Linked DNA regions of Homo sapiens. The protein of the gene in region 2 interacts with the protein of the main gene of each other region in a pairwise test. Each region holds a gene or a part of one and is shown on either strand. Other genes may lie near its edges.

Region 1 (3,007 bases), on a different chromosome or scaffold from region 2:
ACACTAAATGCTTTTTGTTGTTCCTCGGCTGTGTGGCACATTTCCACACTTTTTTAAAGTTAATGGTGGTGATGCCTTGGACTGTCTAACACCTAGTCCAGTAGTCTCCTGTCTCTATGCCTAGGTCATCACCTTAAAGGTTAATTTAACAAATCCTTACTTGGACTTATTTTCCAATGATTTTCATTAGAATATGGCTTCAATCCTCAAAGCTCCAATTTAAAAATTCCGAGTTTCTTTGATCAAAATATAAATTTGATAATTTCTTATGAATCTTATTCTTCTAAAGTTTTTAAGCATAAAGGTTGTTTTCTAAATACCAAAAATAAAAACTTGCTAATTTTAATTTTTTGACCAGAATTATTTCCTTTAGCTCATAAGGTTCTGAAGCTATTTTACATGAACAAAAGCAAACACAAACAGTATTTACTATGCCAGGCACCTTTTTAAGGGCCTTACAGAAAATGGCATGACACTTACAGGCATTCTTATTAACAAATGACAGGTGAGGGAACTAAGGCACAAAGAAATCAAGCAACCTGTCTAAGGTGACACACGGTAATGGTGGAACTGGGATTGAAACCAGAGTTGTTTGGCTTCAGAATCTGTGCTCTCAATCACGTCATACTGCCGCTCTTGAAATAACACAAGAAAATGTTTTCTTTAAATTTTATGAAAGACAAAGCAAAATATAGAAATTCAAAGTTTCATTTCAGCAGCCACCAGGAATTATGTTTTTTTATACATACCTTTCATAAACGTTATCTATTGTGTAGTTATATCAACTTTTTTCAAATCCAAAGAACGAGGACATAACTCATACAAATTTATTTTAAATAAGCCTTAAAATCAGAATTAAATTGATAAATGAAGTAATCTATTGAAAAATGTTATTTTACATCCATTCTGGGTATTACCACAAATTTTAAAAGTAGAAGCATAGCATTTGCCAGTTATTTTAAAAAACCGAGTCAATACAAATTAGTCTCAAAGTTCTTGAAAATTAATAAGTGATTTTTCTCACTACTTAACCATACCTGGAATAACCTTTGAAGAAACACTACTAGCAAACTTTAGACAACAATTATAAAACCAGATTGTTGGCAGAGGACACAACAAAATGTAAGTTAGAAAATTCATAAACATACATTTATTCAGGAAATACAATTACTAGAATCCTTGATATTTCAATGATCATTCCACATTATAAAATATTCACAAACATGTAGTTTTTTAAGTCTACACCAGGTCATGCTGACATTCTTTTTGGATAAGCCATAACCATTTCTTCTATTAAATGCTATAATATCCATTTTAATTGTAAACAAAGTACTTGAGCCAGACTACTTAAGTACTTGAGCAAAATAACTTAAAAAAATCTTAAGAGGAGGAGGACAATGATATTTTTTAAAAACATATTTGAGGCTGGGCATGGTGGCTCACGCCAGTAATTCCAGCACTTTGGGAGGCCGAGGCGGGCGAATCACGAGGTCAGGAGATCGAGATCATCCTGGCTAACACGGTGAAACCCCGTCTCTACTAAAAATACAAAAAAATTAGCCGGGAGAGGTGGCACACGCCTGTAGTCCTAGCTACTCGGGAGGCTGAGGCAGGAGAATTGCTTGAACTGCCTTGAGGTGGCGGAGGCTGAAGTGAGCCGAGATCACACCACTGCACGCCAGCCTGGGCAACAGAGCAAGACTCTGTCTCAAAAAAAAACAAAAACAAAAAACAAAAAAAAAATTTGAATCGTCAAATCCTAAAGAACTAGGCTGCTATTATCTAGTATTATACTAACAAATGAAGTGCCCACATTAAGACAGTACATAATTATTAACGACAATATTTCTCATCTGCAATTTTTAAACATGCTTTCTCAAATAACAAACACGTATTTTTGTAAGTTTTAAAGGCAAAGGGGGCAGAATGATGACAGACATAAAAAGCTCACATTTAAATTACTGGTAGATTTTATTAAAAAAAAGAAAAAAGAAAAAAAAAGATAAGACTGTAATTACTTCCCAAATAAGGAATGCCAAGTACCTTTTATTCCTAAAAGAAATTACTTGGCCAGGTGCAGTGGCTCACGCCTATAATCCTAATGCTTTGGGAGGCTGAGGTGGAAGCCAAGGAGTTTCAGGCTGCAGTGAGCTATGATCACACCACTGTGTTCCAGCCTGGGAGACAAAGCAAGATCCTGTCTCTTTTAAAACAAAAAACAAACAAACCAAAAAAAAAACAAAAAAAAAACCTAAGAAATGTAATTAATCATTAAGTAGCTGCAAATTGAACTGTTCTATTTTGATACTTCCTAAGAGTGTCCAGTGTAATCAGATCATTTTATAATGGGTTATTGACCCTAGGTGTCCTTTAGAACCACCTGGAAAGCTTTACAAAAAAAAAAAAAAGGGTGATTTTGATTTAGTTGTTATGGAATAGGACCCAGGTATCAATTTTTTAAAGCTCTGCCAGGCTAATATGTAGCTAAGATTGAGAATCACTAAGTCAACACATTTTGATATATCAAGAAAATAAATGGAAATGGGGGTGATAATTTATATTTGTAATTTACAAATCAAACATCTATCATACACTTACTATGTACCTAGTTTTATTCACGAATCATCCATTTCTAAGATAAAAATTCCCATCATTTCCTCACTGCACTAAACCACCACTGTACATCTTTGCCAATGAATGACTGTATTTTTCTATGGTCAAGATTTAAAATTCTGGGATACATTATGAAAACTGCATTAATGAAAACAACCTACTGCTATTCATGCTCAACAGTAGCAAGCTAAACTACTGTACTTGGCTCCTTTGAGCTACCCTTATTTTAAGAATTATAAATAGGTGTCAACCCACACAAAGAACAGATTGTGGATTACCGTAGGGAAAAAAATAGCTTACTCAACTTACTAAAAGTTTCAACACCAAAAAAGATTTAACTTGGCTGAAAGTTCTGAAACAGCTGAGACACAGAACCAGGAAGCTATAATTTATA
Region 2 (3,755 bases):
GAGATTTCAACATAATATTTACATTTATTCTTTTTGAGTATAAGGTCACAGAAAGCTTCAAATTTCTCACTTTAAAACTCAGAGGCTAGAAACAGATTTTGTCTATATCAGTCATATTTTAAGGAAGGAGGAATGGACTTCTTACATTTATTTTAGAGTATGATGCTAAAACCCGTGATTCTTCAGAGTAACAGTTACAGGACATTTCTCTAGAATCTTGGAGTGTTGGGTAGCCATTGTGGTTCTGCCTCAGGCTTGTGCCAAATATCAGTATGGTGTCTTCCTACCATGCCGAACTTTAGCCCATAAATGTTTAGAACTAGTGTTTGTTGATAGATTGATTTTCTGAAAGTATATAGATTCCAATGATGACATTTCTAAGTCTTTTTATAAGACTAAAGATCTGCCTTAGAGTTTGACGATGGCTTTCCATCAGAATTAGACAGATTTTTTTAAGAGGTCATTATGAGGCTGGCCCTGGTGGCTCACACCTGTAATCCCAGCACTTTGGGAGGCTGAGGTGGGAGGATTGCTTGAGCCCAGGAGTTTGAGACTAGCCTGGGCCACATAGTGGCATAGCTGACATAATGAGACTTTGTCTCTACAAAAAATTTAAAAATTAGCTGGGCATGGTGGTGCGTACCTGTAGTCCCAGCTATTCAGGAGGCTGAGGTGGAAGGATTGCATGAGGCTGGAAGGTTGAGGCTGCAGTGAGCTTTGATCACACCAGTGTAACAGAGCAGTCTCAGAAAAAGAAAGAAAATCATTTCCATCTCTCATTAATTTCTGCCTCTATTTCAGAATAGCCTATAGTTCATACTACAAAAAGTGCCACAGAAGTACATCATTGTAATGTTTTACATTTTTAATATGTAAATGATTAAAATTACTTTGTTCTTGATTTTTAAAAATCGGTTACTTATTTTTAATTTTTTTTTTTTTTTTTTTTTTTTTTGAGACAAAATCTCGCTCTGTCTCCCAGGCTGGAGTGCAGTGGCATGATCTCAGCTCACTGCAAGCTCCGCCTCCCGGGCTCATGCCCTTCTTCTCTCTCAGTCTGCTGAGCAGCTGGGACTACAGGTGCCCACCACCACGCCCAGCTGATGTTTTGTATTTTTAGTAGAGATGGGGTTTCACCGTGTTAGCCAGGATGGTCTTGATCTCCTGACCTCGTGATCTGCCCACCTTGGCCTCTCAAAGTGTTGGGATTACAGGCATAAGCCACTGCACCCGACCCCTTTAAATTTTAATACTCTTAAAATTTTCCTTCTAGTAATAGTTACTTGTACTAAGAATACAGTCTTGGCCGTGCACAGTGGCTCATGCCCCTAATCCTGGCACTTTGGGAGGCCAAGCAGGAGGATCACCTGAGATTAGGAGTTTAAGACCAGCCTGGCCAACATGGTGAAACCGAGCCTCTACTAAAAATACAACCATTAGCTGGGCATGGTGGCGGGCCCCTGTAATCCCAGCTGCTCGGGAGGCTGAGGCATGCGAATCCCTTGAACCTGGAAGGCGGAGGTTGCGGTGAGCCAAGATTGCGCCACTGCACTCCAGCCTGGGTGACAGAGCGAGACTTCGTCTCAAAAGATAACCAGGCTTCCTTTAATGCTTCTTATGTGTATGGAAGTCAGTATTAATCTTTTTGTTAGTACACTTACGAAATGCACTAAGTTCTACAGATTATCCCCACCTATGTAGAATTTGCTTATTGATTTTTAAGAATCTCTGGCTTTACACTGAAAAAAAGTAGATTTAAAAATAAAATAAAAAAGTGGAACCTCAACGTAATTCAGAATCTTCTAAGTGAAGCCACTTGTATCCTATAGGAAAAGACATATTTGATTTAAAGTAGAAGTCGGAAAAGAAAACCTCTTTCAAGGTCAGGAACCTTGAAAGCCTCCTATATTAAAATATTAATTTTGTAAGGAAAAGCACGTTTTCCATTTATATAATTGGTAACTTAAGGGTGGAAATAAAAAATGGCTAACACATATACATACACAAAAGAAGAGGAATTGAGAATAATGCATGCAAGGGAATATACTGAATGGTTTCTTGGAATTGAATATGGAATTGAATATGTGATGAATGCGCACATGTTGTTTTGGAAAAGTTAATTCCTAGAATTGATATCCTTAATTTGAGATAATTCTAAAGGACCTAGAACCATTGTAAGATCCAGGATAGTACTTTTCCACAAAGTAAATGCTCAATGAAACCTTTTAAAAAGTTGAACTATTAAATTTTTAAATATTTTAGTAGATGATATGTATTCTAATAATACATATGGGATTGATTGAGCAGAGTTAATATTTTAAAAATTTGGAGGCTTACACATCATAGCTGACATTACTCCTGTGTTGGCAAAAGGATTTGGAAGGGAATATAAGTGAAGAGATATGTCTAGTGTTTTCCCTTCTTGATTAAAAAAAAAATTCTTATCCTTTTATCTTAAATATTTTACCCTTCTTTTTCTTTCTGCTATTAAGGGAAAAGCTTTCAGCAGCAAAGGGAAGCCATGAAACAAACCATAGAAGAAGATAAGGAGCCAGAAAAATCAGGTTAGACACTTGTATTTGACATAAGTAAATGGTTTCTTGGGTCTTCATCTGGAGCCATGTGTGAATCTGCATATTAGAACCGTGAAGAAGTACTCAGGGAAAGAGTGATACAAGAGGCAAAACTGATTATCTCAGAACTGTAAAGAAAGGATAAGATTTAAGTATTAAAGATTATCTGTCTATACTGTGTAGTTAATTGAAAATTGTAAATGCTTTCCTGAAAAATAGTCTTTATACAAACAGTGTAATAAGTATTTATAAAAGTAAATTAAAAACAAGCTGGGTGTGGTGGTTTGCACCTGTAATCCCAGCACTTTGGGAGACTGAGGCGGGAGGATCACTTGAGGCCAGGAGTTCAAGACAAGCGTGGCCAACATATGGAGATCTCGTTTCTGCAAAAAAATTTAAAGAATAAATGAATGAATAAATAGAGTTCTTCAATTTGAGTTATGTGGTTTTGTTCACGGGAACACATTTATAGTTATGTTTATGATTGCTCAACAGGAAAACTGTGGTGTGCAAAGAAGAATAAAAAGAAGAGGAAAAAGGTTTTATATAATGCCAATAAAAATGATGGTAAGTTCTACTCTCAGGGATAGGTGGAATTATATCTGAAAGGAGTCTAAACCTAGTCCTGTTTTGCACCTTAATGTTAAATATGTGCTTGAGAAAATCATTTAGTAGAAAGTATTTTCTTTTGGAATCCTGTGAGTAAGGCAGTGTTTTGAATTCTGGGGAAAACTGATACAAAAATTCAAGTACTATTTAGCATATGTAGTATTAAATTGACAGTTTCCTGTAGTTTTTTTCTACTTAAACTCTTTGCAAAAATTATACTTCTAACAAATTCTTACAGAACATACTTGAAGTAAAAACTATGTCCTCTACAATAGCTCATGTCACAGAAGCAACTCATTCCTGAGAACCCACTACCTGCTGGCTAAGTCAGACACACAAGAGAATTTTAGTTTTATTTTGATTGATTGCTAAGATTAAAAAGCTCGAAAGTTGTAGCTTCTCTTAAAATCAAAAGCTCTGATAATGTTGGGCTAGTATTCCTAGGTGACAACAGTCTGCTGGACCTGAGTGATGACTGTTGCTCTTATATCAAGCACCTGGTGTCTAGTTTAACAGTCTCTACCACTCCCAGTGTTTTATTAACCCAACCTGATTTACTGATTTTATTACCTC

The links. The genes of interacting proteins can lie anywhere in the genome.
Region 1: the proteins of PALS1 (region 2) and LIN7C interact in binary tests that used the Homo sapiens proteins (3 or more experiments, as listed by UniProt).

The regions. Positions count from the first base shown.
Region 1 is NC_000011.10:27,493,763-27,496,769, forward strand, and holds the end of LIN7C (protein lin-7 homolog C), read right to left. Parts: 3' UTR 656-3,007; downstream 1-655. UniProt on the Homo sapiens protein: Plays a role in establishing and maintaining the asymmetric distribution of channels and receptors at the plasma membrane of polarized cells.
Region 2 is NC_000014.9:67,314,340-67,318,094, forward strand, and holds part of PALS1 (protein PALS1), read left to right. Parts: intron 1-2,492; coding exon 2,493-2,564; intron 2,565-3,068; coding exon 3,069-3,140; intron 3,141-3,755. UniProt on the Homo sapiens protein: Plays a role in tight junction biogenesis and in the establishment of cell polarity in epithelial cells.